Linked DNA regions of Homo sapiens. The protein of the gene in region 6 interacts with the protein of the main gene of each other region in a biochemical or structural test. Each region holds a gene or a part of one and is shown on either strand. Other genes may lie near its edges. The genes, in order: PTPN22, PTPRC, PTPN12, PTPRO, TIE1, NTRK1 and SORT1.

The links.
Region 1: of the proteins of NTRK1 (region 6) and PTPN22, one has a biochemical effect on the other in vitro, tested with the Homo sapiens proteins (one large-scale study listed by IntAct).
Region 2: of the proteins of NTRK1 (region 6) and PTPRC, one has a biochemical effect on the other in vitro, tested with the Homo sapiens proteins (one large-scale study listed by IntAct).
Region 3: of the proteins of NTRK1 (region 6) and PTPN12, one has a biochemical effect on the other in vitro, tested with the Homo sapiens proteins (one large-scale study listed by IntAct).
Region 4: of the proteins of NTRK1 (region 6) and PTPRO, one has a biochemical effect on the other in vitro, tested with the Homo sapiens proteins (one large-scale study listed by IntAct).
Region 5: the proteins of NTRK1 (region 6) and TIE1 interact in a biophysical measurement, tested with the Homo sapiens proteins (one large-scale study listed by IntAct).
Region 7: the proteins of NTRK1 (region 6) and SORT1 form a complex in vitro, tested with the Homo sapiens proteins (one study listed by BioGRID and IntAct).

Annotation. Positions count from the first base shown.
Region 1 is NC_000001.11:113,861,513-113,865,623, forward strand, and holds part of PTPN22 (tyrosine-protein phosphatase non-receptor type 22), read right to left. Parts: intron 2,766-4,111; exon of another isoform or gene 2,686-2,765; intron 1-2,685. UniProt on the Homo sapiens protein: Acts as a negative regulator of T-cell receptor (TCR) signaling by direct dephosphorylation of the Src family kinases LCK and FYN, ITAMs of the TCRz/CD3 complex, as well as ZAP70, VAV, VCP and other key signaling molecules.
Region 2 is NC_000001.11:198,715,152-198,719,262, reverse strand, and holds part of PTPRC (receptor-type tyrosine-protein phosphatase C isoform 1 precursor), read right to left. Parts: intron 2,582-4,111; coding exon 2,423-2,581; intron 1,170-2,422; coding exon 961-1,169; intron 1-960. UniProt on the Homo sapiens protein: Protein tyrosine-protein phosphatase required for T-cell activation through the antigen receptor. Acts as a positive regulator of T-cell coactivation upon binding to DPP4.
Region 3 is NC_000007.14:77,596,039-77,600,149, forward strand, and holds part of PTPN12 (tyrosine-protein phosphatase non-receptor type 12), read left to right. Parts: intron 1-1,803; coding exon 1,804-1,863; intron 1,864-4,111. UniProt on the Homo sapiens protein: Dephosphorylates a range of proteins, and thereby regulates cellular signaling cascades. Dephosphorylates cellular tyrosine kinases, such as ERBB2 and PTK2B/PYK2, and thereby regulates signaling via ERBB2 and PTK2B/PYK2.
Region 4 is NC_000012.12:15,503,772-15,507,882, forward strand, and holds part of PTPRO (receptor-type tyrosine-protein phosphatase O isoform a precursor), read left to right. Parts: intron 1-136; coding exon 137-298; intron 299-4,111.
Region 5 is NC_000001.11:43,299,374-43,304,029, reverse strand, and holds the start of TIE1 (tyrosine-protein kinase receptor Tie-1 isoform 1 precursor), read right to left. Parts: upstream 3,049-4,656; 5' UTR 2,959-3,048; coding exon 2,901-2,958; intron 1-2,900. UniProt on the Homo sapiens protein: Transmembrane tyrosine-protein kinase that may modulate TEK/TIE2 activity and contribute to the regulation of angiogenesis.
Region 6 is NC_000001.11:156,874,365-156,877,864, forward strand, and holds part of NTRK1 (high affinity nerve growth factor receptor isoform 2 precursor), read left to right. Parts: intron 1-18; coding exon 19-36; intron 37-206; coding exon 207-262; intron 263-541; coding exon 542-644; intron 645-1,155; coding exon 1,156-1,302; intron 1,303-1,715; coding exon 1,716-1,846; intron 1,847-2,035; coding exon 2,036-2,208; intron 2,209-3,500. UniProt on the Homo sapiens protein: Receptor tyrosine kinase involved in the development and the maturation of the central and peripheral nervous systems through regulation of proliferation, differentiation and survival of sympathetic and nervous neurons.
Region 7 is NC_000001.11:109,387,614-109,391,724, reverse strand, and holds part of SORT1 (sortilin isoform 1 preproprotein), read left to right. Parts: intron 1-4,111.

The DNA.
Region 1 (4,111 bases), about 43 Mb from region 6:
TACAGTCGTGAGCCACCGCGCCCGGCCAATTTTTTTTTGTATTTTTAGTAGAGACAGGGTTTCGCCATGTTGGCCAGGCTGGTCTTGAACTCCTGACCTCAAGTGATCCCCCCACCTCGGCCTCCCAAAGTGCTGGGATTATAGGCATGAGCCACCGCGCCCGGCAGGCTTCATTTTTCTCTTCCACCTCTCTTCCTGCCAGACTCCCGGGCTCCAATATCCCAAGAAAGAACAAATTAGGGCAAAATTAGGGCAGAAAAAGTAATAAACTACACCAGAAAAGGAGGAACCCTGAAAGTAGAAAGCAAAAGGGTATAAAAGAGGAAGCAGGGTCATGGGGATGGGTTTAAGTTTGTGAAGAAAAGATATGAGATCTAAAGGGTGAAGGTATTTCTTTGCCAACTACAAGGTAGGGGTGTGAGTTCCCTAGAGGAAGTACCATCAAGAGAAGTCAGGGGAATAGTTGCCAAGAGGATAAAGTGAAGAGACTGGGTGCGGTGGCTCACACCTGTAATCCCAGCACTTTGGGATGCCGAGGCAGGCAGATCACTAGGTCAGGAGTTCGAGACCAGCCTGGCCAGCATAGTGAAACCCCGTCTCTACCAAAAATACAAAAAAAATTAGCTGGGCATGGTGGCAGACCCCTGTAATCCCAGCTATTCAGGAGGCTAAGGCAAGGAGAATCGCTTGAACCTGGAAGGCAGAGATTGCAGTAAGCTGAGATCACACCACTGCACTCCAGCCTGGGTGACAGTGTGAGACTCCGCCTCAAAAAAAATAAAAATAAAAATAAAAAAGAGAATAAAGTGAAGAGAGAGCTCAACATCCCTCGTGGGCCCTGAAATAGGGTGGAATGTGTGAGAAACCAGATTCTGTGTGTGCTTGATAAGCTAATAGTAAGTTCATTTGGTTTGTAGATGATACTACCCCTTTCGTTTCAAGAAAGGAGAGGAGAATGGGGATCCTGGCCAGTATAACAAGGAGTATTAGATTCTAGAAATTCGGATTGAGTCATTTGCATGTTATTCTCACAGACTAGTAAATAAAATAAAGTCACTCCCAAAAAAGAACAGAAAGTAAAAGAAAGCACAAGACCACGATATCTTTGCCTTGAAGGACTACATTACTGGATAGAAGACGTAGCATTTTAGATACATTTTAGGGAGAGGAAAATTAAACTTGGCCCTCCTGTGCTAGGTGGGAGAACACAAAGTTTGGCTGTCTCGAGAACTCTGCAAGGTAGTTCCTCAGTGCCTTGCAAATATAGGTCAGTATTATACCAAGCCTCCATCAGGACAGAAGAAGTACAAGTGGTAAGGAATGGCATTAGGAGCTCAGGCTTCTAAATCCAGTAATCAGGAGAACTACCAGTAGGAATGGAGGACAAGACTGAATTGTACGAGCGTGCAATGCAATCATCTTCAACAAGACTGACAAACTTATCGAGGTTAGTTTCCAGTGCAATAGTGGGGCAAATGGGTAGGTGGGTAGGCAATAGCTAAATTGGGGTGAGTAAACCAAGAGGTTCAACTTTAGATACATAAAATGTGAGAAAATGGCAAGAAATGTGTGTGTTGTTGGTTGGTTGGTTGGTTTTTGAGACAGAATCTTGCCTTGTCACCCAGCAGAGAGTTCAGTGGCGCAATCTTGGCTCACTGCAACCTCTGCCTCCCAGGTTCAAGTGATCCTCCCACCTCAGCCTCCTGAGTAGCTGGGATTACAGGCACCTGCCACCATGCCCAGCTAACTTTTGTATTTTTATTAGAGACAGGGTTTTACCACGTTGGCCAGGCTGGTCTTGAACTCTTGACCTCAAGTGATCCGCCTGCCTCAGCCTCCCAAAGTGTGGGGATTACAGGCGTGAGCCGCTGCGCTCAGCCAAGAAATGTGTTTTAAGTGTCCTGTGAGTAAATGAAAATGTAGGACTAGATGGTCCCTAGTGAGAGGCTGGAGATGGTGTTAGAGAAATCAGCTTCAGAGGTGATGTGATACATTTATTCTGGTGGTGGCATTTTTAAAAATTGCACCTTAATGTGCACAAAGGTCAAGAAATGCTGATAAATATGTTCAAGTGATAGGCTGATTCACAGGAATGAGTAGTGTCAATTCATAGATGTTTGTGCACTTGCTCTGTAGGAAGTACCTTGTTGATAACTGTTTGGTTAGTATCATTACTATAATATACACAGAACCAGGATGTATCTATGTCTCCTTTATAGAACCAAGATGTAGCCAGATCTTTGATATGTCTCTGGTCTTCTAATGAATCTCCAGAAGTTGCAATAGTACCAGTCTGATTTCTAGTATAGTTTAAACTGTTAGCACCTAAACCTGGCCTTCAGAACTAGGTATCTTCTTTCTGTTAGGATTCAATGAATCCTTTATATTTAATAAATATATATATATATATATATATTTTTTTTTGACATGGGATCTCACTCTGTCATCCAGGCTAGAGTGCAGTGGCGCGATCTCGGCTCACTGCAACTTTGCCTGCAATCCCAGCTACTCGGGAGGCTGAGATAGGAGAGTCACTTGCGGTGAGCCAAGATCGCACCATTGCACTCTGGTCTGGGCAAAAAGAGCAAAACTCCATCTCAAAACAGACAAACAAACAAACAAACAAAAAACTGAAATTGTGGTAAGTGCTATGAAAAATAACAAATGGTGCTAATAAGAACTTACAATAGAAGATTTGATCTATTCAAAGAGGTCCAGAAAGCTTTCTCTGGCCAGGTGTGGTGGCTCATGGTTGTAATCTCAGCACTTTGGGAGGCTGAGGCTGGAGGATCACTTGAGTCCAGGAAGTCAAGTCTGCAGTGAGCTATGATCAAGCCACGGCACTCCAGCCTGGGTGACAGAGCAAGACCCTGTCTCCAGAAAAAAAAAAAAAGAAAGAAAAGAAGAAAAGAAAAGAAAGCTTTCTTTGAAGAATTGACCACCAAATTGAGATCTAAAGAATTATTAGTCGGGCATGGTGGCTCACACCTGTAATCTCAACACTTTGGGAGGCTGAGATGGGAACCCTAGAGGTTGAGGCTGCAGTAAGCCATGATCACACTACTGCACTCCAGCCTAGATGACCAAGTGAGGCCCTGTCTCAAAAAAAAAAAAAAAAAAAGGCCAGGCATGGTGGCTCACGCCTATAATCACTTTGGGAGGCCAAGGTGGGCAGATCACGAGGTCGGGAGATCGAGAGACCATCCTGGCTAACACAGTGAAACCTTGTCTCTACTAAAAACACAAAAAATTAGCCGGGCATGGTGACACACACCTGTAGTCCCAGCTATTCAGGAGGCTGAGGCAGGAGAATAACTTGAACCCAGGAGGCAGAGGTTGCAGTGAGCAGAGATCGTGCCACTGCACTCCAGCCTGGGTGACAGAGCGAGACTCCGTCTCAAAAAAAAAAAAAAAAAATTACCAAATGTTATCTAGGTAAAGAGGAGTGTGAGGAATGTTCAAGGCGGAGGTAACAACATGTGTGCAAGGCCCTATGGCAGAGGAAGCATGGCAAGGACAAGAAAATGAGCATGCTATAAGAAGCTGGAGAGACACCATGTAGGACATTGATAGCCATTTTAAAAGGTTCTTTGGGAGGTAAATGAAGTTCTATTTGTGAAGCACTTTTAGCACAGAGTCTGGAACACAGTTCTATGGATTAGCTGTTGTTACTGTGGAAAGTAGATGAACAGAAAACGTATATAAGGAAATGCAGATTTAAAATAATCATGGAACATTTTAAGGCTCAGAAATCCAATGAATGAAATTAACATAATAAAGTACTATTTTATGCTAGTTATATCAGAAAAAAAGTCATGATTTTTACCTGATACAGTTTAAGTACAGAGGTTAAGAGGCTTTGAAAAAAAACAGACTGGTTTCAAATCCGGGCTTTTCCATTTCATGGGTAAAAATGAACATAATATTTTCCTCTTGGGGTAGTTGTAACGATTAAACGAGATCACGTACGGCAAAGCACTTAGCAGATTGCCTAGTACATAGTAAGTAGGCAAAATGTTTTCATCTTTTATTCTCTTTTATATTTATTAAGTCTAGCAAGGTGGTAGAGAAGATGATAAATTCATATATTGCAAATTAGAAAAACTCCTTT
Region 2 (4,111 bases), about 42 Mb from region 6:
AACCACCAAATAAAGAAAAAGAAAGGCGTATTCAGTGTTGGTGAGCCTCTCAAGAAGCAGTCATTTCATACACTGATACACCAGGGCAATTTGGTAAATTTTATAGAAAAAAAAAGTTACATATCCAAAAAGCCTCAAAATACATTTTGACCCAATAAATGCATTTTTAGGAATTTATGAAACATAAATTATTAAAGACATTCAAAAATTTTGCTTTACCAATAAGTGTGTTATCGGAATGTTGTTTATATTAGAGACCAACATAGTTATAGTTAATAGAATGTGATAAAGCCATACATAGAATATTATACAGGCATTAAAAACTACATAGTAGTTAAATATTTAACATAGAAAGGTGTGTGTGATATAGTGATATATTAAAAATACAGTTTTAAAACTGTATTTTGAAAACTGTGTACTCAGAATGTTGATAATACGTGTTAAGTGCATATAAATGTGTATATTATGAAGTTACATGTACAAAATACGATCAGTAGACAGTGAGATAATGAGTGTTTTAAATTCTGTATGCTCACTAGTATTGTCTAGTGTTTATTTCAAATATTTCCTAACCTCAAGGTACCTGTGAAATTTTGCAATTGAAAAATTCCACATTAATAAAGATAAAAAGCCAAAGTAAAGAAAAGGTAGATTTGGTAAAGTAATAATCTGTTGTGCATAAAGTGTTGTGCTTCTTAACACAGAAGCAATAATTTAGCTATAATTAAGTCATATTGAAGTTCTAAAATATTCCAATGAAACATTTGCTTTAAACCACTGACTTGAGCTATAGGAATAAAAATTTTAGAGTCAAATATTTGAGACTCTTTAAGTGTGATTCCATTACACATCAGAGCTTCTCAATCTCATGTGAGCAGTGGTCTTAAAGTTATTTAAGTACTATGAATCAATCATTATAATGTAGTTGGTACTATAGTAATGTAGAGAGCATACTTTTACCTTAAAAGTGTAGTCTGTTGAATATTGAAGATCTTTTACACGGAAATCGCAATTCTTATGCGACTCATTTCTAACCAGAGTATTTCCAGCTTCAACTTCCAAATGGTAACGTTCATGGGGGCCATTACGGTCCCTGGGAGGCCTACACTTGACATGCATACTATTATCTGATGTCATGGAGACAGTCATGTTCCAGACCTGGCTTGGAGCTATCAAAATGAAGAAAGATTTGTTATTAATAATTTAATAGATGCATATGTAAATTACTTGACAATACTTGGATATAGTATAAAGTATTTTAAGTGTTAGCTTGGGGGTTATAAATAAGGAAGTTATGATAGTACATAAATTAAAAAACAATATCAAAACCCTGAAGAATAAATCACTCATTTATTCAGTAAGTATTAGCATATAGGTTGTACATGAAGCCATGAGAGTTATTGCAATCCCTGAAGGAGACTGTGTAGAATTAGAGAATAGAGAAAAAGGGAAGGGAGTGGGGAAGAGGGGGAAGTTTGGGGAGAGGAGAGGAAAAATGTTGTTGATTGGGAAACCTCCAAGTCCTATTACACAATCTAGACCCTTCTTTCCCGGAGTGCTAATGTTATCCTGGTAAACACCTAGATGGGTTCTTCAGGAACAGAAACAAATTGTCTTCTTTTTCTGTGATACAGAAACTCAGGAAAACAACAAAAGCATAGAGCTCCAGGACCAGAACTTTTCAAACCAAAACCTAAATGACCTTAAAAGTGTCTTATATTCAGCCCCAAATAGCACAATATTTCTTCACAAGTCTAGTGCCCGTTAGGGTCTCTGGAGCTATAGATGCTGCCTTAAAACACGGCATTTCTTCTTCCCTGTCCTCGATGGAGGTTAACATGTGCCCCAGAAGCAGATCTAACTTTGGGCCTGGAAACTATGGAGAGATTATACTAGTGGCAAGAGCCAAATGCCATTGAAAGGAAACCTTAAATGGATAATGTGACATAAAATAGAATAGTAAGTAGTTGAGGGTAACGAAGAGAAGAAAATGCTAATAAAATATTACATTTTATGAAATGTTTTATCAGATGAACAGAGGTTAGTAGGCTAATGCTTTATGAGACATTGTTAGGTTTCTGATTACAATTAATATTTCCAGATAGTAAAGACAACAGCAAACAGTGAATGTTTTAATCTAAGTTGGTTAAGTACTTAACTGCATGAAATTGCACAAACTGATGCCAATTAAGATGCTTTTATGCTTTGTCCTTAAAATTCTATGACTATATCTGAAGAAGAGAGAGAATCCAGGATAACGGTTTTTAAACTTTTAGATTTTACGTGTTTATAAGCCCTAGATGTTAACAAATGTGCCAGGTAAATGTGCTTGCTAGAATAAAGATAGAAATATTGTAGGCTAAAAAGTTCATACCTTGCTTTTTACCATTTATGGAAAGAAGCATTAAAACATATAACTTACGAGCACTTTTAGTTGTGAAATGACACATTGCAGCACTTCCATTACGTTGCACTTTTGCAATGATGTAGGCATGTAATGATAAAACATATTTCGTATAAGGTTTTAAATTTTGCAAATCATATTTGATCAGGTTTTTATCCAGATTGAGGCAATCTTTTTCTGAGGAAAAATGTGAAAAAAAATTAGTAAGTCGTTAAAAGTCAGTACTACCACGTACCTAATTAATTTGGTCTCTACATCACATTGTTCCAAGTGAACTCCAAACTATTGAGTGATTGAAAAATAAGTACATCCTTGATACTCAAAAGTACCTACAATTATCAGCCAGTGTATTGAACAAACTCAATTATCATTGGTAAAATTAAATATTGAAAAATTATGGTTTTATATCATTAATTTGGTACATAAAATATTTAATAAGTTCAGATTCATTTGTGAAGACGATCTCTTTTGTTTCTGAGAAAACACAGCCCCCAGTGTATACTGTAAGTCTTGAGTTGCATGTTTCAGAATGATTCTTTTTTAGAAAACCTTTTCTGATATGTAACCTCCAAACTTTGAACATCGGTATTAGCTACTGTTTTGAATGTTAGATGCAGAATCCATTTGATCATCAGTCATTGGGTTGATTCTATCATAGTAATTTGGACACTACAGTAATTAACGGGAGCTGTGAGAATGAGGGAGTTTCATGCCGGAAGTGGAATTCAGCTGTTCATTGAAAGGTAAGTGGAACTGAATACATGTAAGGGAGAAAAGAAAATATTACAAACGGAAGAAGGAATGTTTTTGAGTTTAGTGACAAACCTGATCAGGACAACAGCTCTGGCTGGGGAGGCATATGAGAGGTAGGACAGTGTCTAAGTGTGTTTTCACACTCAGGCAGAAGACTTAGCACTTGTTAAGTAAAAAAATCACCAGCTGCTGCTATTTTTGAGTAGCCAAGTGACATCAGGAAAGAGGATGATTAGAGTGGCAACATGTTTCTGGATAGCAGCAACAGTAATAATAATATCAATAACGATTTTTAAAAATAATAACTCACTGTATGTGCCAAGCACTGTTTCAAGGGGTATACATGAAATAATTAATTTAACCATCACTGCAACTATTAGTTGGTACTCACTATCATCTGATTTTACAGATGACAAAACTGAGCCACAGAGAGATTAAGCAATTTGTTCTGTTTTTTTTTTCTTAAAAAAATAAAAGGCATTACACAAAATAATTTCCAGCAACATCATGGTGGTCTTGAAAGGTGCCTATTGCTTTCAGTAACTTTTGAAAAATAATCCTTTAAATCCAATAAAGCACAAAAGATCTCTTCCCCAATTCCCCAATTACCAAGAAGCTTCACTGTCACTTGCCATCATTAAGTTAACGAGATAAAACTGCAGTTCTCCAAAATATCTTAAGCTAAAAATGTGAGGAAAAATAAACAAACACACTTTGGGAGGCCGAGGCGGGCGGATCGGATCACACGAGATCAGGAGATCCAGACTATCCTGGCTAACACAGTGAAACCCCGTCTCTACTAAAAATACAAAAAAATTAGCCGGGCGTGGTGGCGGGCGCCTGTAGTCCCAGCTACTAGGGAGGCTGAGGCGGGAGAATGGCGTGAACCTGGGAGGCGGAGCTTGCAGTGAGCCGAGATCGCATGACTGCACTCCAGCCTGGGCGACAGAGGGA
Region 3 (4,111 bases), on a different chromosome or scaffold from region 6:
AAAGGTAAAATGGTTGAAGATAGGATATGGTGGTTGGTACTGAGGAATGACATTCTATGTATATTTACATGATTCTGGGGGTGGTTACTACTTTGCAGATATTTTATTGGGTGGTAGATGCTTAAGTAATTCGTTTAGACACTTTTTTTTAGGTATAAGTAAAACTTACAAAAGCAAATTGATGTTTTTTTCTTTACTGTCTATACAAATTTTTTTAATGAATTTTTTTTCTTCAAGTTTCTTAGTTTAGTAGGTAACTTGATTCCCAAATTCACTTCTCTTATTTGTACATATTGTTTGGGTCTATCTGTTAGGAGACTTTATCTGATAGGAGACTTCATTTTAAGGTTTTTAAAAAAATTTTTTTTTTAGTGTTTTTTGTTTTGAGACAGGGTCTCACTGTGTCACCCAGACTGGAATGCAGCGACGTGATCGCAGCTCACTATATAGCCTTGGCCTCACTGCTGGGCTTAGTGATCCACCTACCTCAGCCTCCCAAGTAGCTGAGAGCACAGGCTTACGCCTCAATGTCCAGCTAGTTTTTGTATTTTTTTGTAGAGACAGGGTTCTGCTATATTGTTCAGGCTGGTCTTGAACCCCTAGGCTAAAGCGATCCGTCCACCTCAGCCTCTCAAACTACTGGCATTACAGGTGTGAGCCACTGCCTAACTTTTTCAAGACTATTTTTTTTAGAGCAGTTTTAGGTTTACAGCAAAATTGAGAGGAAGGTACAGAGATTTCTTATATACACCCTGTCCCCACACATGTAGCCCTCATTATCAACATTCCCTACCAGAGCAGTCTCTTTGTTACAATTCACAAACCTACATTGACAAGTCATTATCACCAAGAGTTCACATTTTACATTAGGGTTCATTCTTGGTGCTATACATTCTGTGGGTTTGAAGAAATATATGATGACGTGTATCCACCATTGTGGTATCATACAGAATAGTGTCATTGCTCTAAAAGTCCTGTGCTCCACCTATTCATTCATCTCACCCCCTTCCCAACCCTAGGTAGTCATTATTTTTACTGTCTCCATAGTTTTGCCTTTTTCAGAAGTCATATAGTTTGTTTTTGTTTGTTTGTTTGTTTGTTTTGAGACGGAGTCTTGCTCTGTCGCCCAGGCTGGAGTGCGGTGGCACTATCTCAGCTCACTATAACCTCTGCCTCCTGGGTTCAAGCAATTCTACTGCCTCAACCTCCTGAGTAGCTGGGATTACAGGTGCGCGCCACCACACACAGCTAAGTTTTGTATTTTCGTAGAGATGGGGTTTTACCATGTTGGCCAGGCTGGTCTCGAACTCCTGACCTCAAGTGATCCACCTGCCTCAGCCTCCTGAAGTGCTGGAATTACAGGCATGAGCCACTGCTCCCAGCTCAGAAGTCATATAGTTTGAATCATACAGTATGTAGCCTTTTCAGATTGGCTTATTTCACTTAGTAATGTGCATTTAGGGTTCATCCATGTCTTTTCATGGCTTACTAGCTCTTTTTTTCCTTTTATTATTTTTAATTGACACATAGTATCTATACTTATTAATGGGGTACATGTGATTTTGGTACATGTATGTGTAATTTAAAATGTGGAGTGACTAAATCAGGATAATTAGCATGTCTATCACTTCAAACATTTCAAATGTTTGATGACTTTTAGAATTTTTTTATAATTATCAGGTACATCTGGAATTTTAAAGATTAATTTTATATTGTGGACTTTGATACAAGTATTTTATTTGTTTTGATGTGTCTTTTTGTTTTAACGTTTTCACTGACTTAGAAATGTTTCTCTTTATTTAGGAGGATGAACAAGCAAGAACAGACTACTTCATCAGGACACTCTTACTTGAATTTCAAAATGTAGGTACTTACCATTTATAGACTATCTGTAAGAATAGTTTTCAGGCTGGGTGCAGTGGCTCATGCCTGTAATCCCAACACTTTGGGAGGCTGAAGTGGGAGGGTGACTTGAGTCCAGGGGTTCAAGACTAGCCTGGGCAACATAGTGAGATCTTGTGTCTACAAAAAGAAAAAAGTTAGCCGGGCATGGTGGCATGTGCCCATAGTCCCACTCACTCAGAAGGCTGAGCCCGGGAGGTTGAGGCTGCAGTGAGCCATGATTGTGCCACTGCACTCCAGCCTGGGCAACAGAGGGAGACTCTCAAAAATGGTTTTGAGAATAGAGAATAGTTTTCAAAGAGAAGACATAGAGAGGGAGGGGAGCGTGGGCTGAAAAACCACCTATTGGGTAGTATGCTCACTCCTTTGGTAAGGATCATTTGTATTCCAGACCTCAGCATTATACAATACACCCATGTAAGCTGCACATGTACCCCTTAATCCAAAATAAAAGTTGAGGCCAGGTATGGTGGCTCACTCCTGTAATCCCCAACACTTTGGGTGGCTGAGGTGGGTTGGTCACTTGAGGCCAGGAGTTCAAGACCAGCCTGGCCAACACGGCGAAGCCCCATCTCTACTAAAAAATACTAAAATTAGCTGGGCATGGTGGTGCACACCTATAATCCCAGCTACTCAGGAGGCTGAGGCACTTGAATTGCTTGAGCCTGGGAGACAGAGGTTGCAATAAGCCGAGATGGTGCCACTGCACTCTAGCCTGGGCAACAGAGCAAGACTCTGTCTCAAAAAATAAAATAAAAAATAAAATAAATGTTTTAAAAATAGAAAATATAATACTACTACCTAAATGTTTTATTTGGTAAAATGGGTTTGCTAGAAAATTATTTTGCTTTATATCTGCAAAATGCAAATAATATATATAATATATATTATTATTTTGCTTTATATCTGCTTTATAGTTTTTTGTAAGTAAAAAAAGTAACAGCAATTTTTATTTTTAAAGCATGTGAAGTTAGTTTTTGTCTTTGCAAACTAATCAACTTTTAGCTACTAAAAAAATAAAACAAGCTATATAAATAGTATACTATGTTATTTAACATAATTAATGAAATTTGGTAATTTTTTAGTTACGAAGATGAAATGAGAGTGTAATATTTAGTCTTGACATTTATGCTTATCACATTACATAAAAAGTAATATTAATTATAACATACCCTAAATTTGTTAAATTTGGAATAGTTATACCTTCTTTGCAGCAAATATTTTTATTCTATTGCAGTAAGCAGGTTATTGCATTGTTTATATAATTATTACCCTGTTTTACTGGTTTACAATTTGTTAAAGAAAAGTCACTATCAAAGCTAAGTCTTCATTTAGATATATATTGTTTTTAGTTGAAACCCCCCACAGCGCCCCGACTTTTTTTTTTTTTTTTTTGGCAACAGGGTCTCACTATATATTGCCCAGGCTGGACTCAAACTCCTGAGCTCAAGCAGTCCTCCCATCTCCACCTTCCTAGTATCTGAGACTATAGGGATGAGCCACCAAACCCAGCTAAATTTTTTATAGTTTATAGAGATGAAGTCTTGCCATGTTGCTCAGGCTGCTGTCAAATTCCTGGCCTTGAGTGATCTTGCCTTTTGCATTGGCCACCCAAAGTGTTGGGATTACAGATGTGAGCCACTGAATCTGGACTGGTTGCTAATTTTTTAATCTACGGTAATAATAATAAGTACCTTAATGAATTTCTGTGGTAGATCAGGCATCTTAATTCTGCTAACTGCATCATATCCAGATACTGTTACGTCTGTTGCACATAGATGAAGATACAGAAGCTTTAAGAAGTTAAATAGCTTACCTGAAGTTATTTAGGAAATGGCCAAAGTAGGAATTTGAGTATGGTTTGCTTAGATTCCGAGTATTGCTCTTTCTGTTAAACACCTGCAATAACCATTCTCAAAACATTTGACATCAGTACTCCTTTACATTCTTCAAAGTTATTGAGGATCCCAAAGTTTTTGTTTCTGGGGGTTGTATCTTTCAGTATATACTATATTTGAAATTAAAACTGAGAAATTTTTAAAAAACATGAATACATAAGCATATATTGTATTGGCTGTTAAAGAATAAGGCACGTAACATTTTAGTATTATTCTGAGAATTATTTAAAGCTCATAGACTCCCTCAAAAGGGTTGAGGGGAGGGGGTACCCAGACCGTATATTGAGAACCACTAATCTGTAAGAAGACTA
Region 4 (4,111 bases), on a different chromosome or scaffold from region 6:
TTAGAGGTGTAATTGAACTTGACAAAAGGAGGGAACATTTAAAACACCTAATTTTTTTTCATTAATCGACTTGTCTATACCCAGGGCCTTTCCAGGTGTCTATTCATGTATCTTCTCTTTTTTATATATGATTTAGAGAACTTTACTGAATATTTGATGGTGGATGAAGAAGCACATGAATTTGTTGCAGAACTGAAGGAACCTGGGAAATATAAGTTATCTGTGACAACCTTTAGTTCCTCAGGATCTTGTGAAACTCGAAAAAGTCAGTCAGCAAAATCACTCAGCTTTTATATCAGTAAGTAACAAAGAGATCATTTTACACTTACTGGGGAGCTAGAACAATGGAACTGGTGGGATTAATGATGCTCAGATGTCAATTATTCACAAACCTTAGGGATGATGAGAAGTCTTCAAGATCAGGAGAGGCTGAGATCCACAAGCTTTGGATAGCAGAGGAAATGAATGCTTGTTTAATAGTAGCAATCCTATCCAGGGGTTTAACTTGAGGATTTTTTTTTTACTATTGTGATAATTGAACATTTATTAAACTGACCTTTCACATTAGCCATAACAAAGCCTCCAAGGATGTGGACATACAGTTTGGGAAATACGACATTTGTTTGAGCCCATAACGAAATGATATTATAGGACTGTGAAAAATCTCATTAGAGTATTGAGCTTGTGAGGCTCAAAAGAAAGACAAAGATTCAAGTGTGGGTACACCCCGATGGTCTCAATAAAACTGGTGGGAAAAGTCATAGCTAGAGCAACCTGAAAGTCCCAGTGTCAAGTCCTAGGGTGGCCTCTACCATTCCATAAGGGTAACAGGACAGCAAAAGCTAGCCTCTGAAGGTTGCACAAACAGTGCCTGCCTCTATAACGTGTTTAGCTAAACTGACTATGTTTACTGGAAGTATAGAGGTCAAAAATCAGTAACCTACCCTATCAGGAGTTATATGTGCCTCCGATCAGTAGAAAGAAAAACCAGAAGGCAAAGAATAAAAATTGCTTTCAGAAAAGGATAACCACCACATATCCTATTGCCATCTGGAAAGGCAAATACCACCTTTCGTTGAAGGACGGATGAGAGCAGAAGAGGAGCTCAGCTTATGTAGCAGCTTAAAAATGTTGAAAATATCCCATATAATATTTTTACTTAAAAGAAAAACCAAAAATGTCACCTCTGGCAAAAGAAAGGCCTTAAAGATTTATCAGATGCGTAGAAAGGGTATTCCCAACTGCCTTGTGTGTCTTTCAAGTGTGAGAGACCTTGGACATGTGATTACTTAAGAAAGAGGACAAAGTCGAGTATTTCATTCTTCCCATAAGACTAAAAATGCCTCACTTACCAAATAGTTTCTTTCTGCACCAGTACAGATCCACCGCACATGTGAACAGCCTCCACGAAAACTCCACAACAATTCTGGTCTTTCTGACTTTTCTCTTCTCTGAATTCCTATTCTGTCTCATAGTAGACAGCACAAAACACATAACTTATTAGTGTGTGGTATTTTTCTAGATTTATTTTATGTACATCTTGCTTCTCATGTCAAGTTGTAAAATCCCAGGCTGGAGTTATACTGTTTGCATATTTATTCATTCTTTTGTACATTCAAGAAATATTTATGGAACCACTTATATCTTTCATGCACTCTGCTCTATTCTTAGAGTATCTAAAGCGACTAGTGCCATTGAGAATATGTCGGAATTGCTCAAAAATGCAATTACTTTAAAGAGATGCATCTTAATATTTATCTAGAAAAATATAGGCTCCTAGAAGTTTTGTTTTTTCTCTGTTGCTAAAAGAATGACTTTTTAAGGAGATTCTGTTCTGTGGTAATGAGCTATTCAGATGTACCATGTATACTTCTTTGGTTTAAAAAATGGATACCGCAGACATAAATACTTACACCTAACTGGGTAAATGAGCAAAAATTAGGGTGGCTTACGTTTGCTCAGCATAATGTAGTCACACACCAGCAAAAGTATATTTGCAGCCTGTTTTTCCTGACCAAACTGTTTCACATATTCTGGTGTTGAGCTGTTACATTACAATTTATTATATGTTTATGTCGTTGCATTATAATTTACATTTATGTAGCTTTGAATGCCTTCCCAGAGATGAGAATTCAGGTAGGAATTTGCACTAGACTGCCAATAGCCTTATGAAGAAAACACTTTTATTACCCCCATTTTTCACATTAAAATACATACTGAATCGCAGAAATTTCAGTGACTTCCCCAAGTGTCAAAATTAAGATTATAACTCAGGAATATTTGATAACAAAACCCATTTTCATTTAGCCTGCCATGACCCATGTCCTTGGGTTGATTATCAAGTCAGTCATAAGGTAAAACTATTAAATAATTGAATTTGTTTTGCTTACTCCAACCTCCACCCTCTGTGCCCCCACTACACTAGTACTCTTCAGAACAGTAGTAACACTTCACGTTTATGTAGTTCTCTAACACATATTATCTCATTTGATCCCAACAACAACCTTATGAGGTAAATTAATCAGATTTTCAAAAGCAATGACTCAAGAGACAGGAGGTCTGGGTTAGGTCACAAGCACTTACTAGCTCTATGACTTCAGGCAGCTTGTTTATATCTCTGGGCCTCAGTTTCCTCATCAGCAAATGTGTTAGTCCATATTTACACTACTATAAAGAACTACTTGAGACTGAGTAATTTACAAAGGAAAGAGGTTTAATCGACTCACAGTTCTGCATGGCCAGGGAGGTCTCAGGAAACTTACAATCATGGCAGAAGACGAAGGGGAAGCAAGCACCTTATTCAGAGGGTGGCAGGACAGAGAGAGAGAGCAGGGGAAACTGCCACTTTTAAACCATTAGATCTCATGAGAACTCGCTCATTGTCTTGAGAACAGCATAGGGGAAACCACCTCCATGATCCAATTACCTCCCATCAGGTCCCTCCCTCGACAAGTGGGGATTACAATTCGAGATGATATTTGAGTGGGGACACAGAGCCAAACCATATCAGCAAAATAAAGCAGTGGGTCTCTAAAGTTCTCTTCAATTCTAAAATTCCATGATTTATCCATTTCACAGATGCAATGACTGAGATTCAGAGAGGTTAACTCATTTGTCCAAAGTTGCACCACTAATAATGACCAAACTGAGTCTTAGTGCAATTATCGTATCTCCAAATTTTTACTATTTCATAGTGCTCCAGGAAGTCTCATGCAGGGTTGAGAGCATGGATTTTGGAATCAGACTTCCTGTGTGTGAATCCTAGCTCTACTTACTCTATCTCTACCTCAGTTTTCACATCTGAAAAGTGAGATTTAATAAAAGTACTTATTTCATTGGCTTGTTATAAAAGTTAAAGGGGCCAGGCACGGTGGCTCACACCTATAACCCCAGCACTTAGGGAGGCCAAGGCGGGCGGATCACCTGAGGTCAGGAGTTCAAGACTAGCCTGGCCAACATGGTGAAATCTTCTCTCTACTAAAAGTACGAATATTAGCCAGGCATAGTGGTGGGCACCTGTAATCCCAGCTACTCGGGAGGCTGAGGCAGGAGAATCGCTTGAACTCAGGAGGTGGAGGTTGCAGTGAGCCTAGATAAGGCTGCACTCCAGCCTGGGTGACAGAGTGAGACTCCATCTCAAAATAAATAAATAAATAAATAAATAAATAAATAAATAAATAAGGAATGAAATACGTAACACATAAAAACTTAAAGAAGGTTATATGCTAAAAAACAGTTTACATGCTGAAAAGCAGTTTATATGTGAGCATCCGTGTTTTAAGCTCAACCACTACTGTGATGTCCTAGACATCTTCCCAAGAGAACTACGGTAGCATCCTTGTGTCTGTGGTGTCACTGACCTGCCAGGAACAAACCTATAAATATGTAATGGGTTCCATATCTCTTTACTATAATTACTATCATTTTGTATTATCATTTCCCTTGCACCATTTACACCAAACCTTAGTCTGTCCTCCCCAGTAGAGCGACTTGCTCCTTTTCCTCTCCTGGATCTCAGCTTAGGAATACAGCATCAAATTAAGGAGCTGAGAATGCATCCTAAGCAAATAAATGGAAGTTTCACATTTGCATTTCAGCAGGGAATTTCTGT
Region 5 (4,656 bases), about 110 Mb from region 6:
CAGACAGACACAGACACGAGGTAGGTCTTGGTCTTTGTTTGCCTTCCAAAGAGCTCACGCCCTAGTTGGAGGAACAGGCATGAACACAGCTGCCAAATGTAGGGCGCTGTGCTTTTGAGCACAGAGAAGGGACCCCTGCTCCAGCCTGGGGGAGCTCAGGGAGATGAAGAGATGCTTCCTGGGAGGTACAGTTGGAGCAGGGCACATTGGCGTGAGGACAATGGGGAGGGAGAGAAATCAGGGGCAGGGAGAGGGCATCCTAGACAGAGGGAACAGCCTGGACAGAGGCCTGCAGTGGCAATATTGTGGCAGGTGGAGGGGGCTCTCCAGGTTTGTGTGACTGGAGTACAAAATGTGAGGCTGAGGCAGGAGAGATCAGGTGGAGTCAGAGTCCAGTCTGGACGGTGGAGAGCCTGCGAGCCTGCCTTAGCTCCAGGACCCAGAACCCCTCCACCAGCCAAGCCCTTCCTTCTCTGTCTCTTGTAGCTGACTGTCAAGCAGTTCATTAGTTTAAATGCCACCTAGCTTATCAGTGTTTGAAAGGCTACCATGAGCAAACGAAGCTGGCATTTACTGACCGCCCACCACATACCAACCCCCATTTTCCACTGGATCCTCACAACCAGTGAAGTGGATATTCTTTCCAGTTACAGAGGAGGATCATGGTAATTATTCTACTGGCTTCTTTGAGCAAGCTCGCCCACTCCCCCAGTTTTAACCATCACCTCTGAGTCAGTAACTCGGGAACGGTCTTTCAGCTTGGACCTGCATTTCCATCAGCTTTTCCCAAATCTGCTCCTCTCCAGTGCTCCCTGACTCACTGGACAGCACCCGCCACTTGAGACACAAACTATGGAGTCATCTCTACTCCCATTGTCATAATAATGAATGTTTATTGGCTGCCAGTTATGCACCAGGCACTTTACTGATATTGTTTCATTTTACCATCCCAGCTATCCTGGGAGGTGGATGTTATTATCCCTGTTTTATAGCCAGGAAAGGGAGGCTCAGAGAAGTTAAGTAACTTGCCCAAGGTCATACAATTAGTGAGTGGCAGGGCCAGGTTGTCTGATTCTAAAGTCCACATCTCTGAGCACTGTGCTGCCTGCCTCATCAGTCATAGAATTCTGCACATTGTTTCCTGAACGCTTCTTGACTTCATCCCCACCCCCCCAGCCTGCCTTTGTTCAGCCCTCATCCTTACTCACCTAGACCATCCCAACAGCCACAGCCCCTCCTTCTGCAACTCATCCTCCACGGTGATCTAAGACCAAACCTGACCTTGTGACTTTCTTGCCTGTGACCTCCCATGGCTCCCTATTGCCCTCAGGATAATGTTCGTGCTCCTAAGCCCCGTGATGCTCCCACGCTATCCCTCCTGTTGTGTTCCTAACAGGCACCTTCTCTCCCATGCACCTCCATGCCTCTGAGACTTGCATTTTTTATGTTCTGGCTGCCTGGAATGAAGACCACCCCTCTTAGTGAAATCTTCCTTGATTCCCTTTTTGTCTCCTACCTGAGGCAGTGTAAGCTGAACTCCTCCTCAGTGCTCCTCTAGAGCTCCTGTGTCTGTCCCTGTTTAGCCCTCTTCCCCTGTCCTGTGTTCTGCACTAGACCATGAACCACTCAAAGGCAGCCTCTGTGTTCTAATCGGCTGACCAGCAGACTGAAGGAATCAGCTGCCACCTACTCAGAAATCCTTACCAAGCACAGTGCACTGTGCCAACTGCTCTGCATCATTTTCTCATTTAAACCCCATAACAACCATAGGAGGCTGGCATCATTTAATCTCATTGTACAGACTAGGTGTTGCCAGCCTCTCAACTAATGGCCCAGCACTTAGCACAACTCCTGGAATATTGTTGGTGCTCAATAAATGTTTGTCCAGTGAACAACTGAGTGAATCCAACACAATTACCCTATGAACACCCCCTGAAAATGGCCCTCCACAGATCCTCAGATCCAACACAGTCAGCGGCTACTCCTCACTCCTCCCCTGATCCCAGGTTGCAGTGATTTCTAGCACTTGCCTGTGTTTTCCTGGCCTTGATCTCACTTTCTAGTGGATCAAAGTGATGGCAGTGATGATAGGGCTTGTTTTCCAAAATTTTTTGTTGTGGTGAAATGCATATAAAATAAATTTTACCATCTTTTTTTCTTTTTAGATGAGTCTTGCTCTGTCGCCCAGGCTGGAGTGCAGTGGCGCGATCTCAGCTCACTGCAACCTCTGCCTCCCAGATTCAAGCGATTCTCTTGCCTCAGCCTCCCAAGTAGCTGGGATTACAGGCTCCTGCCACCACGCCCGGCTAATTTTTGTATTTTTAGTAGAGATGGGGTTTCACCATGTTTGCCAGGCTGGTCTCGATCTCCTGACCCTGTGATCCACCCGCTCGGCCTCCCAAAGTGCCGGGATTACAGGCGTGAGCCACCACACCCGGCAAATTTTGCCATCTTAACCATTTGTAAGCAGCATATAACCCAATGTGATTAAATACATTCCTAGTGTTGTCCCACCATCACCACCATCCATCCTTTTTTTTTTTTTTTGAAAAAGACGAAAGTCTAAACACAATGGAGACGGGGTCTCACTATGTTGACCAGTCTGGTCTTGAACTCCTGGCCTCAATTGATCCTCCCATCTCAGCCATCCAAAGTGCTGGGATTACAGGTATGAACCACCGCACCCGGCCCCATGTTTATAACTCTTTTAATCTTGTAAAACCAAGTAAAAATCTTGTAAAAACGCTGTACCTTTTAAACAAAACTCCCCATTTCTTCCTCCCTGCAGCCCATGGCAACCATCATCCTACTTTCTGTCTCTATGATAAAATAGGGTTTCTTGGGTAGAAATCAGGGCCTCGGGGCCTAGAAATGGGGTGAGGGACTCAGGGGAGACTTACCCACATGAGAAGCCAAGAAGAGGATGGGGAGCAAGAAAGGGGGCACCCGCCAGACCATACTCCAGAGGCCGACCCAGGCCAGCCAGGACGAGCTGGGCCTGGGGTCAGATGCTGTGGGCCTGACTGCTCAGCCTGTGTTGGTCAGTGTGGGTCGGTGCTGGGGAGGAAGAGGAAATGAGGTGGCTTGGGTGGGAGGGGTGGCAGGGTAGGGGGTGGGAGGACTCATTCTGCCTTTGAGCCTCTAGGCCCCCCAATCTGGCCCCCACAAGGCTGGGGATGGGTGTGGCCTGGGAGGAGTCACTTGAGGTGGGGGGAAGGTTATGGTAAGGGCAGACCTGGGGACAGCTGGACTGATTTTTCCCATCCCCTGTCTCTCTCCAGTACTCAGTCTTGCTGGCACAAAGGAGGCAGGAGGCAGGAAAGGGAGGAAGCCAGTGGCTTCCGCCTATTGAGGAGGGGGGTGGGGTGGGGGACATTGTTCTGGGGTCTCCCCTCCCCCCGGCACAAACACACAATACGGCCCACATGAGTCCTCATGTATGTGCCCCAGGACACAGACAGTTACATGGGTTTCCTAGAGAGCAGTTCACATACGAAACACAAAGGACCTCTGTGGGCCTGAGAAGCACATACACTCAAAGGAACACAGGGCCCTGGCAACAAAGAGCCTTCGAGTCTACCTTGTGTACCTCTCTCATTGTACAGATGGGAAAACTGAGGCTTGCTGTGCTCGAGGGCACCCTGAGGCTGTGGCAAGGCTGGGACTTGAACTTCTGACTTAGTCCTTGCTTTCTTGGTGCCAATCGCTCCACAAGGGCTCACATTAAGCAGTCCCGGGGAGCACACAGGGAGTATCGGTTGCATAGATAGTCCTCAGCTTAAGCTGCTAATGAAAGCTTCAGCTTATTGTCTGCCAGGTGTCATTCATTTTGCGGCAAACCCCTGCCTATTCCTGGGCACTGGGGCAGCAGAAGTCTGCCCAGGGAGGTGCACTCACTCTTGACGGCTGACAACAACCTGGGAGCAGTCGCACTGCTTTGGCAAAGTCTCTAAAGCCCCATGGATCTTGCCTCTGCTTCCCTCCCAGACTCACCTCTCCCTGCCCTGGCACCCGTTGCTCCACCTCTTGCCACCACTGGCAGTTCCCAGAACGGAACAAGACCTGTAGGTACAGAACGCCCACGAGGAGGCCCTTCCAGGGAGCAGAGGGAGCAACCGTTGGATGGGCAGCCTTGCTGGTTAAATCGATGACCCCTCTGACCCGGAATGGAATGGTTGGGATGGATGAGACTTGGTGTCAGTTTAGGTGACTTAGGTCTGGTAGTACAAACCCTCCCCCTGGGCCTGGGACATCTTCCCAGAGTGTGTTCTGGGTGAAGGCTTCATTCTCCTCTGAATGCACCGGGCTCACATTCACTTTTCTCAGGAGGCTGGGTCCCTGCAGCTTGGTTGAGCTGGTTTAGGCCCAGGGCTCTTCTGAAGCGCCCTGAAAAGTCCCAGGAGACGCTTTGACTCCTGGAGTAGCATAGAAAAGGATCGGGAAAGACCTCCCTACTGATGTGTGACCCACAGAGATTCCCATTCCTGGGCCTGAGGCTGGGAGGAGCTTTCTCTAGACAAGGCTTTGGGTGGGATGGGAGTAGGAGCAGGGGGAGAGTGGTGGATGCCTTACACTTCAGCTCATCCTGGTGCCAGACCTTTGAATCTGGAATGAAAAAGGAGCTGGAAAGTGCTGGGACTGTTTGTATGGCAGGAT
Region 6 (3,500 bases):
TCCTCCCTCCTGCTGCAGTCTCCTTCTCGCCGGTGGGTGAGTAGCCCAAGGTGGAGGGCAGGTTCTGCCTGGTCTCTGGAGCTGAGGCTGGGGCAGAGGGTACAGCTGAACTGATCCCTGAGAGACCAGCTGGGGCCAGGGTTGGGGGGTTACTGGAGGCTACAGTGTGTGTCAAGGCTCACCCCTCCTGCCCTGTGTCCCTACAGACACTAACAGCACATCTGGAGACCCGGTGGAGAAGAAGGACGAAACACCTTTTGGGGTGAGATAGGAAGTAGAAGCTTGTGCAGACTTTGGGACCGGGAGGCTGGGTAGAGGCTCATCTGCATGTCATTTCTGGTCAGAGCAGGGAGATCACTACCATCTGGCCTGAGCTCTGACGGCCACCCGCACAGCCACTGCAGGGGTCCCCAGGGGAGGATGAGGCAGGTCTGGAGACCTGGCTCCGGGCTCCCATGCAGGATGAAAAAATGGCTTACTACAGGAGGCTCTGAGAGTACAGGAGGAGCCCCTGGATCTAACTACCCCTGTCCCCCACCAGGTCTCGGTGGCTGTGGGCCTGGCCGTCTTTGCCTGCCTCTTCCTTTCTACGCTGCTCCTTGTGCTCAACAAATGTGGACGGAGAAACAAGTTTGGGATCAACCGTGAGTCGGGGCTGCAGAGGGCTGTCTGTCTGTCTGTTCTCCTGGCTTTGTTTCCTACTGGCTCTTCCTGACTCTGTCTCTGGGGGGCTGTGCACATGGGAGTTCCAGGGCGTGTGAGTGTGTTTGGGGTATAAATGAAGGCCTGGCTGTGAGGCTTGTGAGTGTGAGTGTGTGTGGGAGCGTGTGTCGGGCTGGTGCTGGGGTAGTTTCAGAGGCGGCAGCTGCTAATTGGTGGCTGGATTGTAGTCAAGCATTAAGTGGGTCTGGGAGGTCTGGGCTCTGTGGGGGTGGAGGGGGAGTTCTTTGGTGCCCATGGGGCCAGGGGTGGGACAGGAGCCAGCACAGGGAGAGGCGGTGGTGCCCCCTTCCCCCTGCCTGCTGTCTCGCTCCCTAGCTTCTCAGTCTCTCCCCTGCAAGTTACAAGGTGGGGGTGACCAGGCATCCTGCAGGCAAGGGTGGGCAGGGCCAAGGTGTGGGCAAACCCCTCCATGCGGCTGTGTCTCCTCTCTAGGCCCGGCTGTGCTGGCTCCAGAGGATGGGCTGGCCATGTCCCTGCATTTCATGACATTGGGTGGCAGCTCCCTGTCCCCCACCGAGGGCAAAGGCTCTGGGCTCCAAGGCCACATCATCGAGAACCCACAATACTTCAGTGATGCCTGTGAGGGGCTATGCTGGGTCAAGGGCAGGGACGAGTGTGTGTGTGTGTGTGTGTGTGTGTGTGTGTGTGTAGAAGCCCCTAGGCCTGAACGATCCCTCCCTTTCTCCCACCCCTCCCCAGCCCTATTCCAGCCATAGGCCCTGTCATATTCTTCTCAGGCTGAGTCCAGCCTGGCTCTTAGCTGCATCCCCTGCCCAGAGTCACAGCTAGCCCAAACCATGTCCTCTCGGGGCAGGTGCAGCCCCACACTATGACATGGGGCTTGCTGAAGGGGTGCAGGTTGAATTTTAGCCCCCATGCAGTCCCTCGTCTGGGCAGCCTTGTGCAGCACACAGCCCTGCCAAGACAGTCCCCGCTACAACCCCAGCCCTCCCAAGACTGGGGCTACCGTCTGACCCTGCAAGCCCCCTCAGGTGTTCACCACATCAAGCGCCGGGACATCGTGCTCAAGTGGGAGCTGGGGGAGGGCGCCTTTGGGAAGGTCTTCCTTGCTGAGTGCCACAACCTCCTGCCTGAGCAGGACAAGATGCTGGTGGCTGTCAAGGTGAGACCCTGCCCCGGGGGGTACTGCTGGCCTGGGTCCCACCCCCAGGAGCTCCATCACATCAGGACAGAGTGGGGGGAGATGCAGAGGGCTGACATGGCTGGATACCGGGGTGGGCGGGCTGCCCTGGGTGAACAGCAGTGAGGGCTCGGCCCCCAACTCAGTCCTGTCCCTGCCGCTTCCATCCAGGCACTGAAGGAGGCGTCCGAGAGTGCTCGGCAGGACTTCCAGCGTGAGGCTGAGCTGCTCACCATGCTGCAGCACCAGCACATCGTGCGCTTCTTCGGCGTCTGCACCGAGGGCCGCCCCCTGCTCATGGTCTTTGAGTATATGCGGCACGGGGACCTCAACCGCTTCCTCCGGTACCAGCACCTGGCCTCAGCGCTGGCCCCGGCCCCTGGCTCTGGGCCCCGTCTTCCCTTCCCTATAGACATCCCTGCTTGTCTTTCAAACCAAGGGGAGACACCAAGAAAGATCAGGAAGGCACATTCCCGTCCCCAGGGAGCTCTGAGATGGTAGAGGAGGCAGATGTGTGAACATAGGGGTGACTCTTGCAAAGGACAAGTGTCAGTAGTCAGGGAGGTTGCGATGGCAAAGGCCGTGAGCTAAAACTTTGGGGTGGGTGGGCTTTGCAGAGGGTGTATGTGCATTTGTGTGTGGCACACAAAGGCCAGGCCTGTAAGGGTAGCAGTTTAGATAACGACAGTAACAACGACAGTAATGAACATTTATCAGGCACCTTCTATGTTCCAGGTGCTATGTTATATACTTTATAATTTATTATTTTTTATTTTTTAACATGTATTTATTACTGTTATTGTTTTAGAGTTGGGGTCTTGCTCTGTTGCCTAGGCTGGAGTGCAACGGTGTTGCAATAATAGCTCACTGCAGCCTCAAATTCCTGGGCTCAAGCAATTCTCCCGCCTTAGCCTCCCCAGTAGCTGGGACTACAGGTGCACACCATTGCACCTGGCTCTACAATTTGTTCTTATTATGGTTCTATGTGCTGGTACATATATATCTTGTATAGTAATATAAATATGTATTTATTTTTTATGGCCTCCAAGCATATATTGCAATTTACACTTGAAGCAAGTTACAAAAAATTCATTTCTTTGGCTTCGGACAGAACAACTCTGATACATTTATCTATTTGTGCTGATAATTTTAATAACTTCGAGAAATGTGCCTGTTTCACAGATAAGGCTTAGAGAGGTTCAGTGACTTGCCCAAGGGCACACAGGTAGTGAATGGCCCAGGGGTGATGTGGCCCCAGGCAGAGCCCCTACTCTCAGCCCCTGATGTGATGGTCACATGTTCCCTCGGTCTAGTCCTTCTCTGATGAGATCACCCCCGGGAGGATGGGGCAGTGTTTGCAAGGCAGGGAGAAGAGCAGGGTTTGGAATCAGCTGCCACTTATGAGCTGAGCCTTCTTTGCCAAGTAGCTTTCCTCTCTGACCTCACTTTCCTCACCAGTAAGAGGGACAGTGTGGGGGCTGTGGTTCTGGATGAGCAAGCGCTGTATGGTTGTCCAGTTGATGGTCATGATCTGGTCCCCAAACATCCCTTTGGGAGTGATGGGTCATTCATGCAGTCAGGCTGCAGGACTCAGCTAGGAGAGACCCCTGAGTCTTGGGCTTATCCTGTGGACCAG
Region 7 (4,111 bases), about 47 Mb from region 6:
AAAGTTGGGTTAGTAATATGTTGCTTTGAGATAGTTTGGTTGAATGAATGTTCATGACAGATTCCTCATACCTATGAAAATTTTTAGGTGAAAGATGGAGGCTGTTTTTCCTTCTCTATCCCCAATCTCAATCTCAGGAAACCACAGTAAAAACAAAATCCTTCCACTCAGAACCTGTCGTGTTTTGCCGAGGAAGTTTTCTGTGAATGTAACTTATTTTCTGTTTTGTGTTTTAGTCTCTGGCCCTCGATTCCTCATCTACAGCACAAGAAGTTTTGGACTAGCTTTAAAATTTCTTTCAAAAATTCTATGATTCATATGGGAGAGGCCAGAGGTTGTGATCACAAATGTTTTCCTGGCTGATTCCAAATTTAGAAGCAAACTGTGGCTGTTTGACTTCCCAGTCAAACTTGAACATAGCATGGATTTCACATTTAGGGGTGTTTTACTACCACCTCCAGAACTTGCTTCAGTGAAATATGCATGTTCTTAAAGATAGCAGGAGTACTTTTTTTCATGTAGTTATGAAAGACATTTTTCTCTTTTATTTTGGGGGTAATATTTTACCGTTTGTTCCTTGTTGGCTGAAAAATCTAATGCTAATAAAAGCTACTAGCTTGAATAGTCCAAAAGCAAACCCAACAGATAGCAGTAAATTCATTTTTCTTTTTCCCTTTCCTATAGTACTCTGCCAAAACTGGGGCTTTTTTTCTTCATCCTGGCTGCCTGTGTGTTTGAAAATAGATGGTCAGCTTACCATAAATATATTCACATGTAGAAACTTATATGTGATTAATTGGCTTGATTTATTTTTATCAGAAGAAAACGTATGTATGTTCCTTCTCTGGCTTATGAATACTATCCGTCTTATGTTTGCTTTGGATAAGCATTTTAGTCTTCCTGTATGTCCTAAAACGCGCGCGCGCACACACACACACACACACACACACACATACACACACACACACACACTTTCTAATATTGTACTGAAGCCAGTTTGCAAGTCTGGTTCCACAGTACAATTGCTCTGAAGGACCAGGAGAAATTGAACTGGGAAGGAAAATTTGTATTAACTTCAATAATTCCCAGACAAGTTAGTTCAAATCATTTTTATCTAGTATTTGCTATTTGTCACAAAGGATTCAAAACATAAATATGTTGTATACAAAATCTCAAAGAGATGTCTCAATACCCAGATTTGGGTCCTGGCTCTGCTGCTTCATAGCTGTGTGATTATGGAAAATCACTTAACTTCAGTGGTCTTTACAGTTGTTTTTTAAACTAGAGCAGCAGCTCTTAGGATTGTTTGGAGGGTCAAATGAGAAGTTTTATCAACGTGTTTTGTTAAAGGTAAAGTACTATATAGATGTCATTCATTTAGACACTTACTGAGCTGCCTGCCATGTACTGAGTGGAGTCCAGACCTGTGCATAAACAAAGCAAAGCACTGGGGCTATCTTAAGGATTTAGGTGTTCAGAGATGTTTCACTGGGAGTTTGGAAGAAGGCTTGACCACTGCAGTGCAGTGTTCTGGGAAAGCCCTCTGGCTGAAGAGAGAATCAAAGTGGAGGTGATTTTTAGGGAGATCTGTAACGGCACGAAGGAAGTAGGAAAATCCAAGATATGTTCAAGGGATGGTCAACAGAAACTTTATTTTAGGGTGAGGTAGTTGATGGGGAGTATGACTAAGGTTTCCAGGAAAACATATAGGGAAGTTAAAAAAAAGATAGCTCTTTTGTGGGGGATGGAAAGAGAGGAGGGGCGTGGGTAGTGAGTTTGGCAAAAGGACTTACTTGTGAAAGAGAGAGTTTTAACAGATAGTGCTAGACATGAGGCTAGAGCTGGAGGAACCAGAGGTAGAAATGGGGAGCCAAGAAGAGTTCCCCTTTCAGAGGCCGGCCATTGCTTTGGTCTTGGATGTGAAGGTCCCAGAGGAAAGCAGAACAGAAGGTGAGGCAGACCATCCTTTATACTTGAAGTGCTAACGTTTCCAAAAAGCACTCCTAAACTTCTGGACCTGGTTGAAGAAGAATGTGAGCCAAGGCATGAGGAAGCCAGGAGCTGTAAGACAGTGATGCCTATGAACAGATTTTTCTGAACATTTGTGAACAAGGATAAGGTTGAACTCTTGCTGATAATGTGCTTAATGGTTTGAATCATGGATTATTGGGCCGATTAGCTGGTCAGAGCCCTTTTGCTGATGCGGCTGGCTGACTTGCTTACTGGCCAAGAGCTGGGAGTAGAACACAGATGTCCCAACATGGTGCTGCATTTGGAAGTGTTTCATAGGAGTGTTGAAATCAATGCATTTGCTTTAGGGATAAGGCAAAGTTATGAGATCCCAGTTATAAGTAATATAGTTGTGAATTCTACTCTTTTTCTCAAGGTCATAGTACCCTCAACAGAGCTCAACTAGCCTTTCTAGGCCTCAGTTTCCCGTCACATAAAATGGAGGATTATCATGAAGTTTTGAAGGGAAGATATATGTGAAAATATTTTGAAACCTTGAAGTACCGTATGAGTATGATTTGTATAATTCCTTAATAAACCTGCTGATGTGTCACAGCCCCCACAGGGCCTGCTTGTCAGCCAGGTGATCCTGATAGATACAGCCCTTGAGCCAAACCCTGAGGAGCATGTGTATTAAAGCAGACGGATGAGGCATAAATGCGTTTGGTTTATCACTTGGCAGAGTTGGATGACAGGCTTGGGTGGGGGTGGCAAGAATTAAAGTGAGTCAAGATTGGCAGAAATGTAAGACGTGTATGTAGTGGTTTTCTTCTTTTTTTAAGCCTTTGTGATTATGTCAAACTTTTGTTAATATAATTGATGATGGTTTGAGGCAGTAGTTTGGGGGAACAGGATCTCAGGTATTAGATCTGGATTCAAACTTCAGTGGTGACCATGGACAAATTAACCTCTCTGAACCTTAGATTTTTCATCTATGAAATGGGAGTACTAATACTACCTCTTAGGGTCATTGTGAAGATAGTACAGGATTTAGTGTATATTCTTTTGTTGAGGATTTCTTGTAATGATTTTCATTACAAAGCTTCTGACACATTACCAGTTAGATGCTTAAATATTTGTACATGTGCTTAATTTTTTTCATATCTCTAATATTTCTAGAGAATTATTATAGGTACTCACAAGAACTGCATCTGGATTAAGACATATTAGCCCTGGCTAAGCAGGGTGACTCACACCTATAATCCCAAGATTTTTGGAGTCTGAGGCAAGAGAATCACTTGAGCCCATGAGTTTGAAACCAGCCTGGGCAACATAGTGAGACCCCATCTGTATAAAAAAATTTTTTTAATTAGCCTGGTATGGTAGCATATGCCGGTAGCCCTAGCCACACAAGAGTCTGAGGTGAGGGGATCACTTGAGCCCAGGAGTTTTGAGGCTGTCGTGAGCTATGATTGCGCCGCTGCATTCCAGTCTGGGCAACAGAGCGAGATACTGTCTTCCAAAAATACAAAAAAATTTATTAGGGGTAGGTAGTGGTGCACATCTAGAGTTCCAGCTATTTGGAAGGCTGAGGCAGGAGGATAGCTTGAGCCCAGGAGTTCAAAGCTATAGGACACTGTGATCGCATCTGTGAATAACCACTGTACGCCAGCCTGGGCAACATAGTGAGGTCCCATATCTAAAAGGAAAAAAAAATGTACTACTTGTATCACTGGACTCAGGATGAAAAAAGAGGAGGGTGGGAGATAGGTTTAGGCAGAGATCATCTATTCAAAATGCCTTTCTTTCTTTTTCTTTTTTTTTTGAGACAGGGTCTCGCTCTGTTGCCCAGGCTGGAGTGCAGTGGCACTATCTCGGCTCACTGCAACCTCCGCCTCTGGGGCTCAAGCAGTTCTCTGCCTCAGCCCCCCAAGTAGCTGGGATTACAGGTGCCCGCCACCACACCCGGCTAATTTTTGTATTTTTAGTAGAGATGGGGTTTCACCATCTTGGCCAGGCTGGTCTTAAACTCCTGACCTCGTGATCCACCCACCTCGGCCCCAAAGTGTTGGGATTGCAGGCGTGAGCCACCGCGCCCAGCCCAAAATGCCTTTCTTGAAGCTATGGGAGATAGAGAAGAAAATAATCAGATTAATAATCA